Homo sapiens: one gene and its partners. The protein of the gene in region 2 purifies or fractionates together with the protein of the main gene of each other region. This does not show direct contact. Each region holds a gene or a part of one and is shown on either strand. Other genes may lie near its edges.

Evidence for each region. The genes of interacting proteins can lie anywhere in the genome.
Region 1: the proteins of ARID5B (region 2) and C16orf87 purify together in Homo sapiens (co-immunoprecipitation; 3 studies listed by BioGRID and IntAct, with this or other methods). This does not show direct contact.
Region 3: the proteins of ARID5B (region 2) and MIER1 purify together in Homo sapiens (co-immunoprecipitation; 2 studies listed by BioGRID and IntAct, with this or other methods). This does not show direct contact.

The regions. Positions count from the first base shown.
Region 1 is NC_000016.10:46,807,181-46,814,208, reverse strand, and holds part of C16orf87 (UPF0547 protein C16orf87), read left to right. Parts: intron 1-4,423; coding exon 4,424-4,606; intron 4,607-6,074; exon of another isoform or gene 6,075-6,240; intron 6,241-7,028.
Region 2 is NC_000010.11:61,904,699-61,911,726, reverse strand, and holds part of ARID5B (AT-rich interactive domain-containing protein 5B), read right to left. Parts: intron 1-7,028. UniProt on the Homo sapiens protein: Transcription coactivator that binds to the 5'-AATA[CT]-3' core sequence and plays a key role in adipogenesis and liver development.
Region 3 is NC_000001.11:66,969,962-66,976,989, reverse strand, and holds part of MIER1 (mesoderm induction early response protein 1), read right to left. Parts: intron 6,183-7,028; coding exon 6,031-6,182; intron 5,336-6,030; coding exon 5,254-5,335; intron 4,094-5,253; coding exon 3,999-4,093; exon of another isoform or gene 1,472-3,998; intron 396-1,471; coding exon 268-395; intron 1-267. UniProt on the Homo sapiens protein: Transcriptional repressor regulating the expression of a number of genes including SP1 target genes. Probably functions through recruitment of HDAC1 a histone deacetylase involved in chromatin silencing.

The sequences.
Region 1 (7,028 bases), on a different chromosome or scaffold from region 2:
TTACTCCTATTTTTGGATTGTAGTTTATTTTATTCTTGTTTCTTATCAGAACCATCAGGTTGCCAGTTTGCTGAAATTCTGTAATTTTGGGTCATTAATAGTACCTTTTTCTTGTTTCCAGCACCACAGATATATTTTCCTTTTTCTCCTTCCCCTCTTCCCATGTTTCTTCTCATTCAATGGGATTTTGAGAAGGTGGTAAGGTAAATGTGTGTCCTATCCGATTTTATTTATTCAACAGTCTGTGTAAGTAATGTTCTGGGTTCTGCAAATAAGGTAGGCCAAGGATTCCCAAGTTTCATAAAGCCTATATTTTGATGGAGGAGACGCATTGAGCATATAAGTAAATAAATAACAGATTATAGCTGTAGTAGATTACAGGAAGTAACTTGGGCTGGGAGAATCAGAGCAAGTGACCTGTATATGGATATCTGAAGAGAAAAAAAGGCTTATCTTATGAAGAGCCGTGGGAAGAGAGCTCTAGGCAGAAGGATTAGCGTATACATAGACTCAGCGGAGGAAGGAGCTCGTTTTATTAAAAGAAAGGCACGTCTGGAGTGTAGTGAACAAAGTGGTGAGCTTGAGCATCATGAGACTGGAGAAAGAGGCAAATGCCAGATCTGTTGGGGACTTGTCTTTGGTAAGGAATTTTTAGTTTAAATATGGAAAAAAGCTTATGAAAGGCTTTAGAAGGGAAGCTATGCAGTTTGATTTTTTTTTTTTTTTTTTTAAGATAATATTGGCTGGTACGTAGAGAATAGGTTTGACTGGGATGTTGCCTGTGGAGGTGGAGAGAAATGAAGAGATTATGGGTATATTTTGCAAGGAGTATCTGTGGACCTTAGCGATGGTACAGGAAGCAAGATGAGTCACAAACGACTACAAGTTATTTGACTAGTACAACCAGGTGATGCTATTTACTAATATGATGAAAGTAGTAGGAGTAACAGATTTGGGAGAGGGAGAACCAAGAGTTATTTTTTGATACAATTTGAAATGCCTTTGAGACATTCAAGTGAAGTTGTCAGGTAGGCAGTCTAGAGTTTAGGGAAGAAATCAGAGCAGAAGGTGAAAACTTTGGAGCCATCATAACAATAGTGTTTAATGCTGTGGGTTTACGAGATGATCTAGGCAAAGTCTAAGTAAGAGAAGAGGGCTCTGGACAGAATCCTGGGGCCTTGACGTTAGATTGGGAAAGCACCTAGGGGAAGGGCACACAGCAAAGGCGATTAGGAGGAGTGACTGATGAGGTGAAGAAACTGGGGGAGCCTGAGAATCAAGCAAAATAATTTCAAGGAAAGTAGTAGTCATCTTTGTTGAATTTTTGAGAGATGGTGTAAGATGGTAAGTGAGGTGTCTATTAAGATTTGGTAACAGGTTTTTGTTGTTTTTGACAGTCAGTTTCAGTGGGATAGGAACTATACTGGAATAGATTTGATGAGTGAATGGGAGATGAAAAACTGAAGGCAGAAAGTACAGGTACCTCTTTTGAGAAGTTTGGCTGTGAAGAAGTTTGCAGAGATGACTGGGTAGCTGGGGGAACAAACCCAAATTCAGTGTTAGACTTTAATAGGCATACTATTTAAAGCTTCATCTATCACTAGTTCTTTTAACCTTTATTTTTTTGAGAAATTCTAAGCATATGCAAAAGTAGAAAATGACCAACCCTGCCCCATCCACAATCCTGTCTACCTCTTCCTTTGCATCATTTTGAAGCAAATCCCATATAATTTCAGTTATAAATATTTCATTATGTTTCCAAAAGATGAACATTAAAAAATGTAAGCACAATGCCATTATAACATAAAAAATTAATGATAATTTCTTATTAATAAATATCCGACTTGTGTTCACATTTTCACTTTTCTCAAAAATTGTCTTAGAATTTTAAAAACAGATTTTAAATAAGGTCCACAAATTGCATATGGGTGCTATCTTATTTATTTATTTATTTATTTATTTATTGAGACAGAGTCTCGCTCTGTCACCCAGGCTGGAGTGCAGTGGCACGATCTCAGCTCACTGCAGCCTCTTCCTCCTGGGTTCAAACAATTCTCATGTCTTGGCCTCCTGAGTAGTTGGGACTACAGGCGCACACCACCATGCCTGGCTAATTTGTATATTTTCAGTAGAGATGGGGTTTCATCATGTTGGCTAGGCTGGTCTCGAACTCCTGAACTCAGGTGATCCGCCCCCTTTGGCCTCCCAAGGTGCTGGGATTACAGGCGTGAGCCACCACACCCTGTCATTTGTTTAAGAACAGGGTGTCGCTTTGTCACCCAGGCTGAGACAGGGTCTTGCTATGTGGCCCAGGCTGGTCTCAAACTCCTGGCCTCAAGCAATACTCTTGCCTCGGCCTCCCAAATGCCTAAAGTGCTTTTGGATTACAAGCATGAGCTACTGAGCCTGGCTAGATTATATCTTTTTTAACCCTCTTATTATCTATTATTTTCTCTTTTTCTCCTTGCAAGTTAGATGTTGAAGAAATGGCATCACCTGTCCATTTGTATGTGCTGTTTGTATCCCCATGGTGTCACTTAACATATTCCTTGAATAACCTCTTTTTCCTATTAGTTGTAAGTTAGATCTAAGGGCTGGAGAGATTGGAATTTTTTTTTTTTTACAAGACTACTTAATAGGTAGTGATGTGTACCTCTATCCAGAGGTGCTTAAAGTCTGCTTCTCTCTCTCTTTTTTTTTTTTTTTGAGATGGAGTTCATTTTTGTTGCTCATGCTGTAATACAATGGTGCTATCTCAGCTCACCACAACCTCTGCCTCCTAGGTTCTAACGATTCTCCTGTCTCAGCCTCCCAAGTAGCTGGGATTACAGACACGTGCCACCACACCCAGCTAATTTTGTATTTTTAGTAGAGACGGGGTTTTGCCATGTTGGTCAGGCTGGTCTCGAACTCCTGACCTCAGGTGATCCACCCGCCTTGGCTACCCAAAGTGCTAGGATTATGGGTGTGAGCCACCGCGCCTGGCCTGCTTCTCTCTTTTAGTGATGTTAGTACCTGCTGATGTTTAGTGCTTAGAACCTTTAGTTCATTGCAGGTTGAAAAATGTTGATACTCTGATTCTGTCATTCCTTCTTCATTTATTAGCTTTAATATGAGAAACCTCTTCATTTGCCCTTTGGTTACCCCGTGAGTAGCACAGTTTAAATAGAAAAAGCAGAAGAAATGCTTTGTTCTTGCCCTATATTTAAGTTTTCAAAGTAATGAGTTGGTTCTTTAGTATCTTCGTATGGTGGCCAAGTAGTTTTTGTTTTTAATGTTAATGTACTCATATGCTTGATATATTTCAATCTGTTACAGTTACTATTTTTATTGATGCTCAAATTGTCCTGTAATAGTGGGAGCCTCTTCATGTTAGCCCAAGTCTTAACAACACCCTGCTTGTCTTTGATAACTTTCTTGCAATCTGGGATAATTAAATATTCTTGTATTATCTGGTATATGTCTAATTTGAAACTTCAGATTAATTCTCCAAGGATATGGTGTTTGGGGATAATATTACTATTTTACTTTTAATTTTTTTACAGCAGTCTATTAAGCATACTTATTTTATAGTCTTTCACATTGTTCCCTTTAGTTCTTTGGATATGAATTTTTCTGTTTGTTTTGCCCCTTTACCACTGAGATTTTTGGCATTTGGGGAATTCTCTTTCTTGCTTTTGAGTGCAGGTATGTGTTAAAGCAAGGTATCATCTTTTTTGTTTTTGTTTTGTTTTTTTCTTTAAGTTTATTGTTTGTCTTATCCAACATTTTGATTTGTTTAGAGTGGGAGGGGTGGCTTCTTGCACTAATTAAATCACCATATTTAGTAAAGTTTCCCTATTGCTATTCCATTTATGGAACAACATGCTCTTATATCAGAAATTACCTTATCTGTGGCTAAAGTGAAAATTACTCACTTGCCTAGGGTTTTTATATTTGTTATGGATGCTTTCTGTTTGATTTTTATTGTAACCTTAATACGTTATCTCTAAGATCAGTTTTGCTTTTGCATATTTCACATATTTTAATCTTTAACTCAGGTAGAGGGCAAAAGGGCATGCAGTTTTTTTCCTTTCTTAATATTTCACTATTTTTAGCTTGGAAACAGGAAGAAAAAGGCAGAAAGGTTGCTATGGAATTGTGTGAACTTGTAGAGGCTGAAATTTAAGCTGCCAAATGAAGAAACTTGTTTTCTCTTCCAAGATTCCTCCTACTTCATGTGTTATTGTGATCTGAATTCTATTGAATTTCTTTTTTTCTTATGAGGGTGTGGGGGAGACATATATGTTATGGTTGTAGTTCTATGAAATATGCCAGGAAGCATACTCTAGTGCTATTTAGAAAGAAAAAGGAAGACAATGAGAACTTGGGCAAACAGTTCTTGCTAAGCCCTAAAATATATCACTTTTATTCATCCATACAGAAAACAAGCATGAGGCCAAGAGGAGGCGAACAGAGAGAGTTAGGAGAGAGAAGATAAATTCTACAGTAAATAAAGATTTAGAAAACAGAAAGAGGTCTCGAAGTAACAGCCATTCAGATCATATCAGACGAGGAAGAGGAAGACCTAAAAGTGCATCTGCCAAAAAACATGAGGAAGAAAGAGGTATGAACAAATCAAGCAGTTTTTTTTTCAAGTATTAAATTGATCTGGGATCTTAATTAGGTAGTAGTGAAGAAAGTGGAGGCATTGAGCTCCTGGACTTAAAAATCACAACTCATATTTTAGTTTGAAAGCATTTCCTCTGTGGTAGATGCTTATTATTTTTTTAATCACAGGAATTTAATTCTTATTGGAAACCTGAAGGCTTAGTTAGGTAAAATTTACCTTGCTATAAACTGATGATAATAGAGTTCAAAGATAATTTGTATATGACATCCTGAAGAAGCCTGTTAAAATGATTGTACTTTTTTTTTTTTTTGAGACAGCGTGTTGTTCTGTCACCCAGGCTGGAGTGCAGTGGCGCGGTCATGGCTCACTGCAGCCTTAAACTCCAGGGCTCCGGTGATTCTCCCCTGAGCCTCCTGAGTAGCTGGGACTACAGGTGTGCACCATCATGCCTAGCTAATTTTTTGTAGAGGGGGGTTTCACCATGTTGCCCAGGCTAGTCTTGAACTTCTGGGCTCAAGCAATCTGCCCTCCTTGGCCTCCCAAAGTGTTGGGACCTCTTTTTTTTTTTTTTTTTTTTGTCTTTTAAAGACATGTCTGAGTTCTGTTAAGACTACTTCAAACTATTATACTGTGAGTTTTAAAATTTTACTATTGAAAGTGTTGTTGGTGGAGTTTTTAATTGCTCATTGGGAGATTTGTGTGCTTCCTACTCTGAGGCAGCTTTTGCATAGATGAATTCTTCTTGGTCCAGAGTATATTTCTTTTTCTCCTTACAGGTCTTCTTTCTTCTGACGAATATCTACCAATAGCTTGTTTTTAGACATTAAAACTTCAGTTTCTCTTTTTCTTTGATTTATGCATCTTTTTAAAAACTTACAGAAAATTTCAACATATGCAAGAGTAGAGAAAATAGTATAATGAACCTCTCTATGTCCACAAATACCTTTTTAAAATTGAGACTTTCAAGCTGGTAGTTAATTTAAAAAAGGGATAGTTGCTCTTTATTGTTCTTTAAAAACCTCTGTCAAAATGATTTCATCTTCACTGAAATGCATTTTTAATTTCTTACACTATTTGTGAGTTATGCTTTGCTTTTCAGACGTTCTGTCTTAGATACTCAAGTGCTTTTTGTATAAATGTAAATTTCACTTATTTTAGACAATAAGACCATTCTACCAGTTTGCTATTTCTCTCTGCTTTATGTGCTTTTATTTGAATAAAGTTACTATTGCTAGAAAACAGCTTCACCAGTATAGCCATTCCTAGCTTTTATCAAAGTTAAAGGTGTCTTAGTATTGTATGGCTAAAGGAGTAAGGTTTATATCGGTTTTGACTGTATTCTAGGAAGGCTGTACTAAGGTACTCCATATTCCTTGGGTAATTTTACTGCTTTTCTCTTTCTATTATGCTCTTCCAGAGGGTTTGAGTTATTTGTTAAATTTGTATGTTTCTTTAACAATAGGGTGCAGAAAACCTATGCCGAGGACTCCTATTTTAGAAGGGAAACTAGGTAAAGAAAAGTCAGCAGAGAAAAAGGAAAAGAGAGAAATACTGCCTGGCTCAGAAAACAACATTCTTTTCAGTTGAAATAGAGGGAATGCAGCTGAAAGAAGAGAATGCTTCTGGTGGTGGGTGAGAGAAGATGAGAAAGCAGATAATGACCATCTTTAGCTGGGGAAATGAAGTCTATATACTTGTGGTAGAACTGTATATATGCAGGATTTCAGCTTTTATTTCATGATTACATGAAAAAAGAAGCATTTGTTTAGCTGTAAATATTTTTTAGGCATTTTCTGTTTATTACAGAAAAATTTTAAGAAAGCTATTTCTAGAGTAAGATATGCTTTTTTTTGTTTTTGATACAAATTGTAGGAAATTACTTAAATTAATTTTTGTAGCACAAACTGGAATCTTATGTAGACCATGAAGTCATTACACTTTTTCTGTAAAGAGCCAGATAGTAAATGTTCTAGGCTTTGTGGGCCATACTATCTCTGTCACAACTACTCAGCTCTGCCATTGTAGCTGGAAAGCAGCCATAAATCATGCATAAATGAATGGGCATGCCTGTGTTCCAGTAATACTTTATAAAGCAGGTGGTGGGCCACATTTGTTACTTGTACTATAGTTTGCCAATCTCTTTCTTTCTTTTCTTTCCTTGCTTTTTTTTTTTTCCTTCTGAGATAGCGTCTCACTCTGTTACCCAGGCTGGAGTGCAGTGGAGTGATCATGGCTTACTTCAGCCTCAAACTCCTGGGCTCAAGCGATCCTCCTGCCTCAGGTGCATGCCACCACACCAGGCTACTTTTTTTACTTTTAGTATAAATGAGGTCTCACTATGTTGCTCAGGCTGGTCTCAAACTCCTGGGCTCAAGGGATCCTTTCAGCTTGGCTTTCCAAAGTGCTGGGATTGCAG
Region 2 (7,028 bases):
CAAAAAACATAAGGCACAATGTATGGCCTATGAATCACAGAACTTCATCTAGGCTCTGCAGGGTTAAAACTGGGTGCCGCTCGTGCAGTGCAAAGAAAGATGTTAAATCAAATGAGAATGACTACTCCAGGACTGGAAGCACTATTATTTTGAATAAGATTGAAAAGGCCAGAAAAAGCAATTCAAAAACATTTCAATTATGTATTTCCCAGAACTACATCTTTGAGCAACTAATGCAAATGTTACCACCACAATAAAACTTCTTCCCACATATAAAACAGGTTGAACAGCATATACTTTATATATCATATGCATATTTTTGACTATTAATAAAAAATTCAAAATCTATGTATGCTTTACTCTCCTAAGCAATACAGTAATTATGATTAAGGGACAAGCAGCACAAAAAGAGCCAATTTATCTTACTCGTGCTCAGGAATACTATTGTGTAACTAAGCAACTAAAGACAAAATATGGTCTAATTAATTCACTCCTATGCTTATTTAAAAGACACAATTAGAACATTTTTATTTTCCAGCTTGCACAGTAGCTCAACATGCTTGAGGGTGTAGAAAGCAAAGCCCATTATTCTCAAAGACAAGAGTTTAATGTTTAGTGCCACTGATGAGGCTTGGAACTCAACTATGGGGTGGAAGGGGTGTTTCATAGCCCGGGTGTGCTTGGAGTCATGAGAAAAGAAAGGTGGGGGAAAAGATGTTTATGGGGTCACTAGATTGACTAGCAACATTTGGCCTTTGCCGCCTGGGGTTCTTACTGGGGCACAGGAATGGAGATGTGACTGTGAACCTGATGGTCATATGCCAAGGACACACGCCACTGTGCGTCTATTTATACAGCCACAAAGATCCTACAGAAAATTCGCGTAATTAAACCACCCATCCTAGTCTGCGTGATAAATGTCAAATATCCATCTTTAACGCTGCTAACAGTGCATCTGATTTTAAAAGCAGAATTAATTTACCCAAGTGTGTGCGAGAGATTGATGCCATTAGCATGATTCTAAAGCACCCTTTCAATAATCATCATCATCTGCATGTTTGAAATGTGTTGTCGATACTGATGCTCATAGTCCAGGGCATGAGGGATGTATGCTGGAGGGCTAAGACCAAGGTTCTCATCTCCAGCAAGTCAGTGAGGAACACAGCGTGGCCAGAAAAATGCATCCTTGGATTTGTGCAGTGTAGATTCTTCAAGAAATGAGGGAATCCATGACCACATCTCTGAGAGGTGAATGAATCCTTAAGCCAACAATCGATAAATTTGTTTTAAATTTCCTTAAAAGCCAAGGCAACGGGTAGTCACTAGCTACAGTATTATTCTGAGTAGAAGATGGCAAATATCCAACTACACTGGCTATAAAAAATGACAAGTGAATGCATTTGGTTCAAGCAATTATATTCTGGATATTGGTTAAAACTAGACTTTGATAAATGAGCTTGAGTCATATATCACTAGATGCCACTATGAACAATGGCATGCTTTATTAATAATTAATAATGAAGTATTTACATGTATGGACTCTTGTATTTCATAAAAATAACATTTCCTTAGTATGTGTCTGACAGTCTAATTGTCGAGAGGTTTTAATTGCTTACAATTGTGAGGCACTATCAAACATGTGGCTTAGTTAAGACCATCAGCCTGAAAAACATGCTGGCTCGTATGAACTGCCAACCAACACCAGGCGAGGAGTGAATCTTCTTTCCTGAAGTCTAGTCTTTTCATAGGTTGCCACCCCAAAGCCCTGACTTTTTATGGGTTGACTGCTGAGACTGGAAAATTAACAACGAAACAGAGATGCTGCCTCCAGTCTAATCTTTCAAATATTTGCTTGTTTCTTTGGTGAGTGCCCCTGTGAAAAAACCACTTCCCATGTTTTCACATTCTACAGTGCAAAATGACTACAGACTTTGGAAGAGAAAGAAGAAGTGTGAGATGGGGTCGTGGATCTGGCCCACATGTGAATGACTGGTCACTGGTCATCTGCCAGAAAGAAACTGGGTAAAGCTTAAAAAAGGTAGACTGTGTGCAAGAAGGCATTTTAATTATGTCGTTCAGTCACTCAGAAAATACTCACTGAAGGCCAGGCGCGGTGGCTGACGCCTGTAATCCCAGCACTTTGGGAGGCCAAGGCGGGTGGATCACGAGGTCAGGAGATCGGGACCATCCTGGCCAACATGGTGAAACCCCGTCTTTACTAAAAATACAAAAAATTAGCCGGCCGCGGTGGCTGGCGCCTGTAGTCCCAGCTACTCTGGAGGCTGAGGCAGGAGAATGGCGTGAACCCGGGAGGCGGAGCTGGCAGTGAGCCGAGATCGCGCCACTGCACTCCAGCCTGGGCGACAGAGCGAGACTCCGTCTCAAAAAAAAAAAAAAAAAAAAAAAAACTCACTGAATAGCACTAAATATTGCAGAGGACCCAGAGGTGAATAAGGCACAACTGCCTGCTCCTGAGAACAGCACTATGGTGGGGGGAGCATAGGGTCAGGTGACAAGGTAAAGGAAAAGAACACAGATAACTATAAGGCACAAGGTATAAAGTGCACGACAGGTTACAACCAACCACTGGACTATAAGCTCCCTGGGAGCAGTGATTTTTGTCTGTCTTGTTCATGCTGCATCCCCAGGGCCTAGAATAGGATCTGGCACATAATAGGTGCTCTACAAATATGTGTCCAGGAAGTAATAATTCAAAGATGAAGACAGTACTTTCTAATTTCCGGAAAGATTAAGAAATGCTACAAATAAATAGTGATCTCAGTTCGTCTCAACTTAAACTAAGGAACACAGATGGAAAGAGTCTGATGGCCTTTTCTGTGATCACTGTCTGTCTACAAAGGCAGTTTGGGAACTCCTTGAGGGCAGAGGCCATTCTTCTTCTTCTTTTTTTTTTTTTTTTTTTTTTTGAGATGGAGTCTTGCTCTGTTGCCCAGGCTGGAGTGCAGTGGTGCAATCTTGGCTCACTGCAAGCTCTGCCTCCCGGGTTCACGCCATTCTCCTGCCTCAGCCTCCCAAGTAGCTGGGACTACAGGTGCCCACCACCACGCCCAGCTAATTTTTTTGTATTTTTAGTAGAGACGGGGTTTCACCATGTTAGCCAGGATGTTCTCAATCTCGTGATCTGCCTGCCTCGGCCTCTCAAAGTGCTGGGATTACAGGCGTGAGCCACTATGCCTGGCCGAGGCCATTCTCCTTAATCTCTTGTATCCAAGTGCCAGCACACAGTAGGTTTTCAATCAACATCTGAGAAATTTAATGAATTCTTTTTCCAAAAAACATGATGGTTGGGAGCCTTCCTTTGGATGCCTATGACATGTATTATCAGCACAATTTACTGATGTGTTGTGACTCATATTGCTTTTACATTTTTAGACATGTTGATCTCATCTCCTTATCAAGACTGATAAATTTATTCAGAAAAAGGGTCACATCGCAAACTATTTTGCATCTGTCTCTTCACCTAGCAGAGTACTGAGCACATAGAACTTCACGAGTAGTTTTTTATTAACTCAAAATAGACAATACTAATATTGGCTAAAGTTTCGCTCTTAACCATACAAAATATAATTTAATATTATTTCACTCATTCTCAAATTTTAATGTCCTAGAACCAATGGTGAAATTGGATTGGATATGTAAACGTTAATGATATAATATTGAAGTACAATTTCTTATATTACTTAAGTTTCTTATATTTCTGCTATTACTGGTTAATGGCCAAAACTCAAGAAAGAAAAATAGGTACACAATCATCTACCTTATTGCAGATCAACCGCATAGGCCAGGGGTCAGCAACGTTTTTCTTAACAAAGCCAGATAATAAATATTTCTACTTTGTCAGCGATCTGGTAACTGTCAAAACAACTCAACTCTGCTGTTGGAGCCTGAGAGCAGCCATAAACAAATTAGCATGGCCACATTCCAATAAAACTTTATTCACAAAAACAGACAGTGGGCCAGATTTGGCCTTCAGGCCTTACTTGGCTGACTCTTGTCACAGTCCAGTAATTTCTCTCCATGTAATTCTTTACATTCTTATCTTTGTTCTAAAAGGCCTGCTTGGTAGAGAGTAAAGATAAATCCTTTTCTTAGCTTAAGATGATTACTAAAAATAAATAATAACTATTATAAGTGCAACCACTATTCATTGAACTCTCATGTGTAGGTACTATACTATGCTAGATTCCAGACCCTTTTCATTATTATCTCTGATTCCCAGCACAGTTGAGGCCATTAAATCCATTTTACAGAGGAAGAAACAGAGGCTTAAAAAAGTTAAAACAATTGTCTAAGGCCAGTGTGGTCATTTAAGAGGTCTCAGAAATCTCTAAAAAATTACCTTATGGATATAGACCAAGACTGAGGAGCTATCCAAAGAGAAGAGCAAGACTAATCCAGCACCTTCTAAATTCCAGAATGTGTCTGTCTAACTCCAGATATGACCAAATCAGGCAATCTTTTGAAAAAAAAAATCCTGCTGATCCAGTTGACAGTTTACTTCTGCACTAAAATGTAAATCCTTAAGACACTTTTTATTTTGGTGACACAGCTAAAGCCAACATGGAGATGAAAGATAGCCTGATTCGGTAGGATTTGGAAGCCCACATGTCCTAGCAAACTCACCTAGGTGCCATTCCCTCACACGGAAAAACTTTTCAGTAAGCTCCATGGTAGTGGTTTCAAACCTCAGTGAGATTAATGCTAATATTAATGATAATAACAACAGTCAACCATTATTGAAGTATCTACTATGTGTCAACTTTGGGCATATGCATTTTACATATATTAACTTATTTAATCCTTAAAATAATCCTAGGAAATAAGGACCGTATTTCCACTTTACAGATGAGAAAACGGAGGCACAGAGAGTTTAGAACTTGCCCAAGATAACACAGCTAGACTGAGACTGTTTAAATATTTAAAATTCAGACTCCTGGACCCAACTCTAGAGATTCTATTTGAGGAGACTTCAATAGGGGCCCCAGAACATGGATTTTTAGCATTTTTTAATTCAGTAGTGAGGCTGGTGATAACTGAATCACTTTTAGAAATCTGGAATGCATGCTAGAATCTGTAACATCCAGGTATGCCTGATCTTGACTCCTGGACATCATTAGCTTAGCCATCCACAAGCACAGTTGGAGGTGACCAGCAAACCTTCTTATAAAATCCCAGCGATGGCTGGTCAGGCTGAAATCCAAGCTTGCATATCCACCCATTTTAAGAGGGTATACTGCCAATAGATTAAGCACTTGGCAATTGGAAAATGAATGTAATCAGAAGTTATCCAGTAACAGAACCAATTACCCGCCTACTTTGCCATTTTCCTCCTCTGAAGAGCTAGTGGCTGAATGTGGCAATTCTAAGTAATTACTAAAGACACTTAACTCCTTGCACATGGCCCTGCTATTCATTTTCATGGTAATTTAAGATGGTATCATTTTTAGGTCCAAGAACCTCCACACAGACACAAGTTTTTTTTTTATTGTTTATAAAATTAAGAATATCTAGAACAAAGGTCACTATAATCATAATTATTTTCTATTTATTTAAGTACTTTATAGTATATAAAGCTCTTTTGCCTATAAATCCTCTTGATCTTCACCAACAATCTATAGTCATCCCTACTTTGTTCCCATTTTGCAGCTGAAGAAACTGAGGTTCCAAGTACTTATGGTTGTTCAAGATTAAGCAAATAGCAAGCTGCAGAATCAAAATGTGACTTTCTTGAATGCTTTTCCTCAACACCAGTTGCGAACACTGGAAGTATTATATATGAAGGCATTGGTGTATATAAGCATATAAATCATCACCATCATCATTAAAATGAATAGTAAGTTGTTAATGCTCATTAATAACTATTAAAATATAACTGTTATCATTATATACCACTGATTAGAATTAGCTTAACTTTACAGGATAAGGATAGTTTTGCTACCTAGACATCTGGTGACCTTTGGCAAAACTGATTAACTAGTTACAATTCTAAAATGTCTGAGGGACTGTTCACATTAGTACACACTTCTAGAATGTAATATGATGAATTCAAGCTCTGCTTTCAAGGGTAGGTTTCACTGGGGAGAAAAGATAACCTTGAATTTCAAGGAGGCCTGGGTTCTAGCCTGGTGACCTTTGACAAACCACATAACCTTTCCGAGTCTATGTCCCCATCTGTAAAATGGGTGTACAAAGTCCTGCCTTATCCAGCCTCCCACAATTTATTACAAAAATCATGAGAAAATATTCCAAAAAAAAAAAAACCCTCTGCAAATCACAGCAAACCACACAGGGACGCTATTTCTAATCTTGCACAATGATCATTTTTCTGCTTTTAGAACTGACGTCTTTACATTTCAAGAAATCATAAAAAGGCAGAATGATTCTCTTAAACCAAAAAAAGCATACTGAGTCCTGGCTGTCCTTTCGAAATGGATGCTGATGTCAGCTCAATCAAGAAATTATTAATCTCCATTTGGTTACTTAAAATAAACTGTACTGGCTGATTAAATGTGCTGAACATTTTCTCCAAGTAACAGTGCATATCACCAAGAAACCTTTCTCTTTCAGTTACACATTGCAAATGGCAAATGCATCATTCAAAACTATTTAAAATCAATAATAAAAATCATTTAAATGTATATAAACAAGTTAATGGAATAAGTGAAAACAAAGCAAATTTCTTAATGAGAGGGCCCTGTTGCCCCCTCTAGGTGCCAGCAGTAAATGCTGGTTTCTGTAAGGCTCTCCTCCAGAGAAGACTGCTGCTGCTATTCTGCTAATGAATGACTAACTTAGGCCAGGGGGGAAATGACATCACCAGGGTGGAAAACCGATCTGCATTGGGAAACTTTCTACCTGCTTTACATTTGTCATAATTATTTTGCACAATGCAGTCTGCATTTGCATAATTTTGAGGCGTGTCATTATCTCAATTGAAAATTGTTTTAATATGGCTGAATAATTCACAATGACATCAGCCAAAGTCCTAATGAAATATACAAGTATAA
Region 3 (7,028 bases), on a different chromosome or scaffold from region 2:
TAATGATATGCTTGTCTCATACATAATATGAACTGTAGTTTACAATATTTCATAAGACACTGAAAAGTCTAAATGCCTTATTTATGAAGATATAATAGATGGTAAAGTTTAATGTGTATTATAAAAGCAAGATTTTATCACTCTCGGCCTTCTGGTTAAGATCAAGTATATAAAAGCAAGATTATCAAAATAATAATTAACTCAAGAAAAATCTAGAAAAGCTTAGCAAAAATGTATATATAGCTCTTAAGGAAAAAATTAACTCACGTTACACCAGGATGAAGATTATATTTCTTCTTTCCAAATCGTGTTTGCTGAGCAAAGAAATCATAACGTTCAGATTTTTTCCACATGTAATAGAATGCTACACATTCACCAACTGACCTTGTTCGGACCTGTAAGAAACAAATGCTTGCTTTTAAGAATCTCCTTTTTAACAAAGTTACTTCATGATAAACATCTGAAGTTTGAAAATAAATTTGGCTAGTCCTTAACTGAAATATAATCCTATATATAACATACAACAGTGTAGCAGCTATGTTGAAAGCTATTCTTTCTAAACATCTATTAAGAGAAATAATATATTGGCAACAGGTCTTCAGATATACAGCACTGTGCTTTTTAAAATGCTACCATCATCCTAATTTACTAGAAAAATATATTCCTGTATTAAAAATGCTTGGAAGTTGGCCGGGCACGGTGGCTCACGCCTGTAATCCCAGCACTTTGGGAGGCCAAGGGGGGTGGATCACGAGGTCAGGAGTTCAAGACCAGCCTGGCCAAGATGGTGAAACCCCATCTCTACTAAAAATACAAAAATTAGCCGGGCATGGTGGCAGGTGCCTGTAATCCCAGCTACTCGGGAGGCTGAGGCAGGAGAATCACTTGAACCCCAGCAGGGGGTGGGGGTGGGGGCAGAGGCTGCATTAAGCTGAGATCACACCACTGCACTCCCACCTGGGTGACAGAATGAGACTCAGTCTCACACACACACACACAAAAAAAAGGCCTGGAAGTGGCATTCATGTTAAAATAAATGTTATAAACAGTTTGCTAATACTTTTACTCACAGAGTACGGGTACCTAGGGAGCGTATCTTTAAATTCCCTTTTGAAAGATTCTCTTACTAGTCCCAACAGCAACCCAGACTCAGTTAATTTACTCTCTAGAAAGTCTGGGAAGATGCCACAGTGAGTTAAAAGTATCATAATAATGCTAATGCTTTGTTTACTAAGTTACTCTTGCGGCTTACTGTGCTGTACCTATTTGTGCAACTGAATGGCTCCCCTCACATAATGTTAAATGCCTACGGAATTAAATGATGCTGACAGAATTCCTTTTTGTTACTTAGCCGGGAGAACTGGTGGTAGGGTTGATGTATATATATAAAATACTGAGGATTTAGGGCTGATGTATATAAATAAAATACTGATAACTTTTTTCCTTTCTTTTTCTTTTTTTTTTGAGATAGTGTCATGCTCTGTTGCCCAGGCTGGAGTACAGTGGCACCAAACCGCTAACTGCAGCCTTGCCCTCCCAGGCTCAAGCAATCCTCCTGCCTCAGCACCCTCAATAACTGGGACCACAATTGCATGCCACCAAACTCAGGTAATTTTTCTATTTTTTGTAGAGATGGGGTTTTGCCATGTTGCCTAGGCTGTTCTTGAACTCCCAGGCTCAAGCAATCTGCATGCTTCAACCTCCCAAAGTACTGAGATAACAGGCATGAGCCACTGCACCGGCAATACTGACCATTTAAAAGGAAATCCAGTGTCTGTATGTGTTCTGGATGCAATATACTTCTTTATCCCATAAATTTCTGCTCTTGAAGTAAATATTCTGTAGCACTGATTGCACCTAAAGGACAAATGTTGATGATACCCTCCCTTACCCAACATATATTTTGCTTTCTTCCCGTTTGCACTGTACAGCTCTGATCCATATTGCTCTGAGACTGACAGCAATCAGGACTTTAAAAAAAATCATCCTCTCAAGCTGTTTTTTGTCTCCTCTAGGATCTTATTTCTAGATAGATTCGAACTAAGTCAACTGTACTTTACTGAAAGCAAAAAGATAAAGTCATTTTGGGGCATGCAAAGTTAAGATTATGAAAAATCTTCAACAAAAGCCCTCAAAATAGAACTTATGATTAAGATCTGAACTTTAATTCCAGACATAAAAACAAACTCGATATTCTCACTAGAGTACTCGTCTCCCTTTTAAAGAATTACTGTCCTCTTTTTGTGCACTAGAGTAATTTAGTGTATTATGTAGAGGTCAGCTGACTTCTACCTTGTAACATTTAAATGCCACTGTCCCAAATATTTATGAGAAATCAAGGTTATACTTTTAATACTTATGTTACTTGGCTCTAAGTTTCAAGTCACCTATAATTTCTTAACTCCTTTAAAAAAATCATATTGGTCAGGGTTGTTGCTGCTGCTTGTTACATAAGCTATCATTCCAGGGGTCCCTTCCTTAGGTAATTCAGCATGGTTTGGTTAAGAGTGTTTTAATTCAAGCAGAAGTGTTAAAAAACAACAACAACAACAACAAAAAAAAAACCTCATCCAAAAATGTTGTCCCTTTCAACCATGAAACAACGAACTTTTTTCTTTTTTAATCAAAAACATACACGGCCAGTCACATAATGCACTCCTTTTCTTGAATGTTAACTATATTTGAGGTTATCAGATGATATGAACACAACATTAGGGGTATACATTTTTGAAACTAATTACATTGTCTTCTAAGTTATCCTAAATGCTAAAACTAAACATTTCTCTATTAGTGTTATCTGCGGTAAACTGCCAACATTCAACAAAATAATTAAGAATGAACTAATTGGGAGTGGGGCTCTTCACTGCCCAGTTCCCACTTAAAAAAAAAATAATAAAAATAAGAATAAACTAGTTAATGCACGACAAAATTTAAGAAATGAACCCACAGGATTTGTAAATATTTTATTAATAACAAAAAATATTAAATATGTGTCAAAAAAATCAACTGGATACAATCCAATCACATCCAAATGTATAAAAAGAGAGCTGTGGCAGAAGACTATTCAGAGCCTCAGACATAAGCCCAGGTACTTTCAACAAGGTCCTGGACAAGCTACGACACAAAACTTAGAAGCTATCTTTAAGGAATTACATAAACCAATACCCTTGTCATTTCTACTAACTAAAAATAATGTGATAATCATAAGCCTGGGAATTAATTTCCTACATTTAATCTCCAAGACTTTAATTCTGCCTGTCCTAATCTGTTGTCCTAATGTGTTGCTCATGGAAACAACACATTTTTCTATTCTATATAATTATATGGTTACTATTAAAAATCATACCTAATTTCAGTTATAAGAATTAAGCCCCAAAACAAATCTGTAAGTAATTATAAAGCTATTTGGAGTATAAATTACATGACTGATATTATCAACATGAAATGATAAATGATTATGTTAAATAAAATCCTCAAATTATAACTATAAGAATATAAAGCTGATTTATCGACACAGAAGCTCCTAGAAAATTAAATGTTGACTAAAACTAAGTTAAATATTAAGTATTTGATTTTAGACCACTCAGGACTTAAGCAAATGTAATAAATATTTTAACTGCAAATAATGTCATATTGAAAGTGCTTTAAAGTTTCCAAATCATTTCAAAGGCCCTCCATAAAACAGTCACAGACTGTGGAAAACAGCTATAAAGAATTGCATTGCACATACACACCCCAACTAGAAGTTGATTAACATGCTTGTAAATGAGTACAATTCTTAAACACCTGCAATATGATGCACTGAAAACAGTCACCAACAGGTAATTATAGGTTAGGAAGTATAGGCAGCCTTACTATAATTACTCACTAAATACCAAAATATTGTCATATTAATTATGAAACCTTTAACACTAGACAATATAACAAATTACGATACATGACCATTTGAGTTGTTCAACTAAATTTCTTTTTGCAAAAAAGAGATTATCATTACTTACTTTATTAGCCTGAATCAAATGAAAATCCTTTCCATAGGCCTTCAGCCCTTGTTCAAAATTTCTACACTCTTCCTCTGTCCAAACAGATAATTCCTCTGACAAGATGGGAGGAACAAACTGTTAAGCAATATTCCCCCAATTATTGCATATAACAAAATTACAAATGAAAACTTAACCTTCTCGTAAAAATGAGGGAAGCATTTTACTCCTGAGCTCTATTACTAATTGTTGCAAAAGATAAAGTGACAACAATTCCTTATTTAATAAGATTTTGAATGATTTGGTCCCTACCTCTCCAGCTTCAACTTGTGCCACTTTCTTCTTAATTCTTACTGATCAAACTATCTCAGCCACCTTTCAATTCCTTAAATTTGCCATGTTCTTTCTTACTTCAGACTTTGTGCATGGTGTCTCTCCTTTGCTTAGAATTATTTCCTGCCTCATCCCCTTTCACTGAGATAATTCTTTTGCATCCCAACAAAAATATTACTTCATTCTGAATGCTTTCCCTAAAAGCACTACCCTCTCTGCAAATAGGTTAAGTCCCATTACTACAGGTTTCAATAGCACCCTCTAATTTTCCTTGAAGAATTCATCAGCTATTTTCCAGTTTCCCTACCTAAGCTCTAAGCACCACGAGGGGAAGGGACTTTGTTTATAGTTACATCCTCAGAATTCAGAAGGCACTCAAATTTTTGTTAAATAAATATCTCTCATTTGTTACATATCTATATATATATATATATATATATATATGTAGTGTATATATATATATGTAGTACTCTTAGTGAAGGGGGGTAGGAGCCAGATATAGTATAAAAAAGAAAAATCCAAATTTTAGTCATGGCTTCATTACTGATGAATTATGTTTGCTTTCGCCAAGTTACTTTAGTTCAGAGATCTCAGGCTCATCAATTTTTACCTTTAAGTAAAGGTATTATCTGTCATACTACCTAGTTCATAGGGCAATTATCAAGATCAAATAAGAAAATATTTATAAATATGCCTTGAATGCATAAGGCAGTATAAATTTTTACATTTTTACTTACATGACTGTATTTTCCCACAAAGGAGGAAGGGACAATCTTAATCCCACTCCCCGTAACGATTTGTTTAGTAATACTTGGTATTTTGTAAATATTTATCAAACTCAGAAAAATCAGTATTATTAAGTTTAGGCTATACCTAGGTAAACTGAAAAGCTTAATTTTAAAATTTCTGCCAAATCATGAAAATGAATAAAAACTATACTTACCTCTAGCTGCTTTTACATTAAATCTTAATCTTCTCAATGCTTCTTCTGTATCAAAATTGCATTTAACCAATTCATATAAAGCCTAGAAAAATAAAAGGCTTGAATATGTGACAAGGACTATAAACAGTTCAATGCTACAATTTCTTAAAAGTTTTTCAAACATCCAGTGTTTTCATCCTTTTTGAGGGCAAATAACTTTAGTGAATGTTATATATAGAGAACTCCAAAGAAAAACAAATATGAATTCGATCCTGATAAATCAACTACCTTTAAATATGTACAAAGTAGGATATGCATAAACTTGGTGGCCATAGTATCCCTAGGACTAAAAAGAATTCATTTTATATCAATGAAAATCCCTTCTTTGTGGCTTCTTGAGATTCCTATAATTTTAAACAAATCAGAAAAAAACAATGATTAAAAAGGTAAAAAAGATAGGTTCATGGTAGGCACTGGTCTTACCATGTACATAAGATAATCCGAGGTGAGAATTCCAACTTGATATACACAGATTCTTAGGGATAGCCAAAGGAATTTTAAAAAGCCTAATGAAAAGTATATACAGGCAAAATAAAACAGGTTTTTGTTTCGTTTTTGAGCTTCACACCAATGAAGTCACTGTGGTAACAACGGATATCTTACAGGGATTATAACCTCAGATTCCCTGTCAATAATGTTATAAAAAGTTTGGTGGACAGAATAACAACAATGCAAGTGACAGCATTTACATGTATAAATGTGTATGGCAAAGTTCTAACAGTTGTTTCTTTCACAGACCTGTTCATTGTCTTTTATGTGAGATCCTTCAGGAATTGCTTCTACACCCTTCTCATCACCTGTTCTTCTAGATGCATCTTTAAGAAATATAATCACTTTATCTTCTGGTAAGTACTCAGGGTCCCACAGGAGCTGATCATCATTTTCATATACTAAATTAGTAAAAGACAATGTTAAACAAATTTCTAAAAACTGATAGAGTTTGTGTTAAAACATATTACTAAATAAACAACTCAGAGCCAAATGTTGAGAACTGAGGTACAGTGTGGTTCTACTACTTGCCTGACTTCGTTCTTGGGCAAAAACTATAGTTTAAGTAAATTAAACAATTTAAACAGAGAGGAGGTACCACTTTATGCCCCCTGCAGATCCAGTCTGACTTTATCTTGAGTTTACCAAATTCCAAGCTCTCTTGGTTGAATACCATCTCTACCACTTATTACATGTATGATGACCTTGGGCAAATTATTTCCCTTCTGTCTCATCTGTGAAAGGAGGTAACAATAACTCTACCACATAGTTTTAAGGATTTAAAGCACTTTACAATCATTCTGGCACATACTAAAATCCTGTAATTGTAACTGTAACTATTATTTTTGAAAATATGTCTAGAAGAATGCTCACCAAATGTTAACACTGCTTAATTCCTGGTGGTGGGATTTGAAGTAAATTTTACTTTATGTTTTCTGTGATGCTTGAGTTGTATAATGTATATAAATCACTTTCACAAAAACAAGTCATTACTTTTTTAAAGGTATTTAAGTTTCATCATAATTTCCATTATAAGAAGATGAAAGCCTAAATCTAATTAAAACTCAAAAAGTAATGAAAGGAGGATGACCTAAGACAAAGCCTGTGGAATTCCAAATGATAAGAAGAAAACATGGATAAAATTCAAAAGTCACAAACAGAAGAAATACCAAGAATGTAACATCACAGATGCTAAGGGAAGAGAGTGTTTCAAAGAATAGCTTCAAAGACTGGTTAAATTCTGTTGA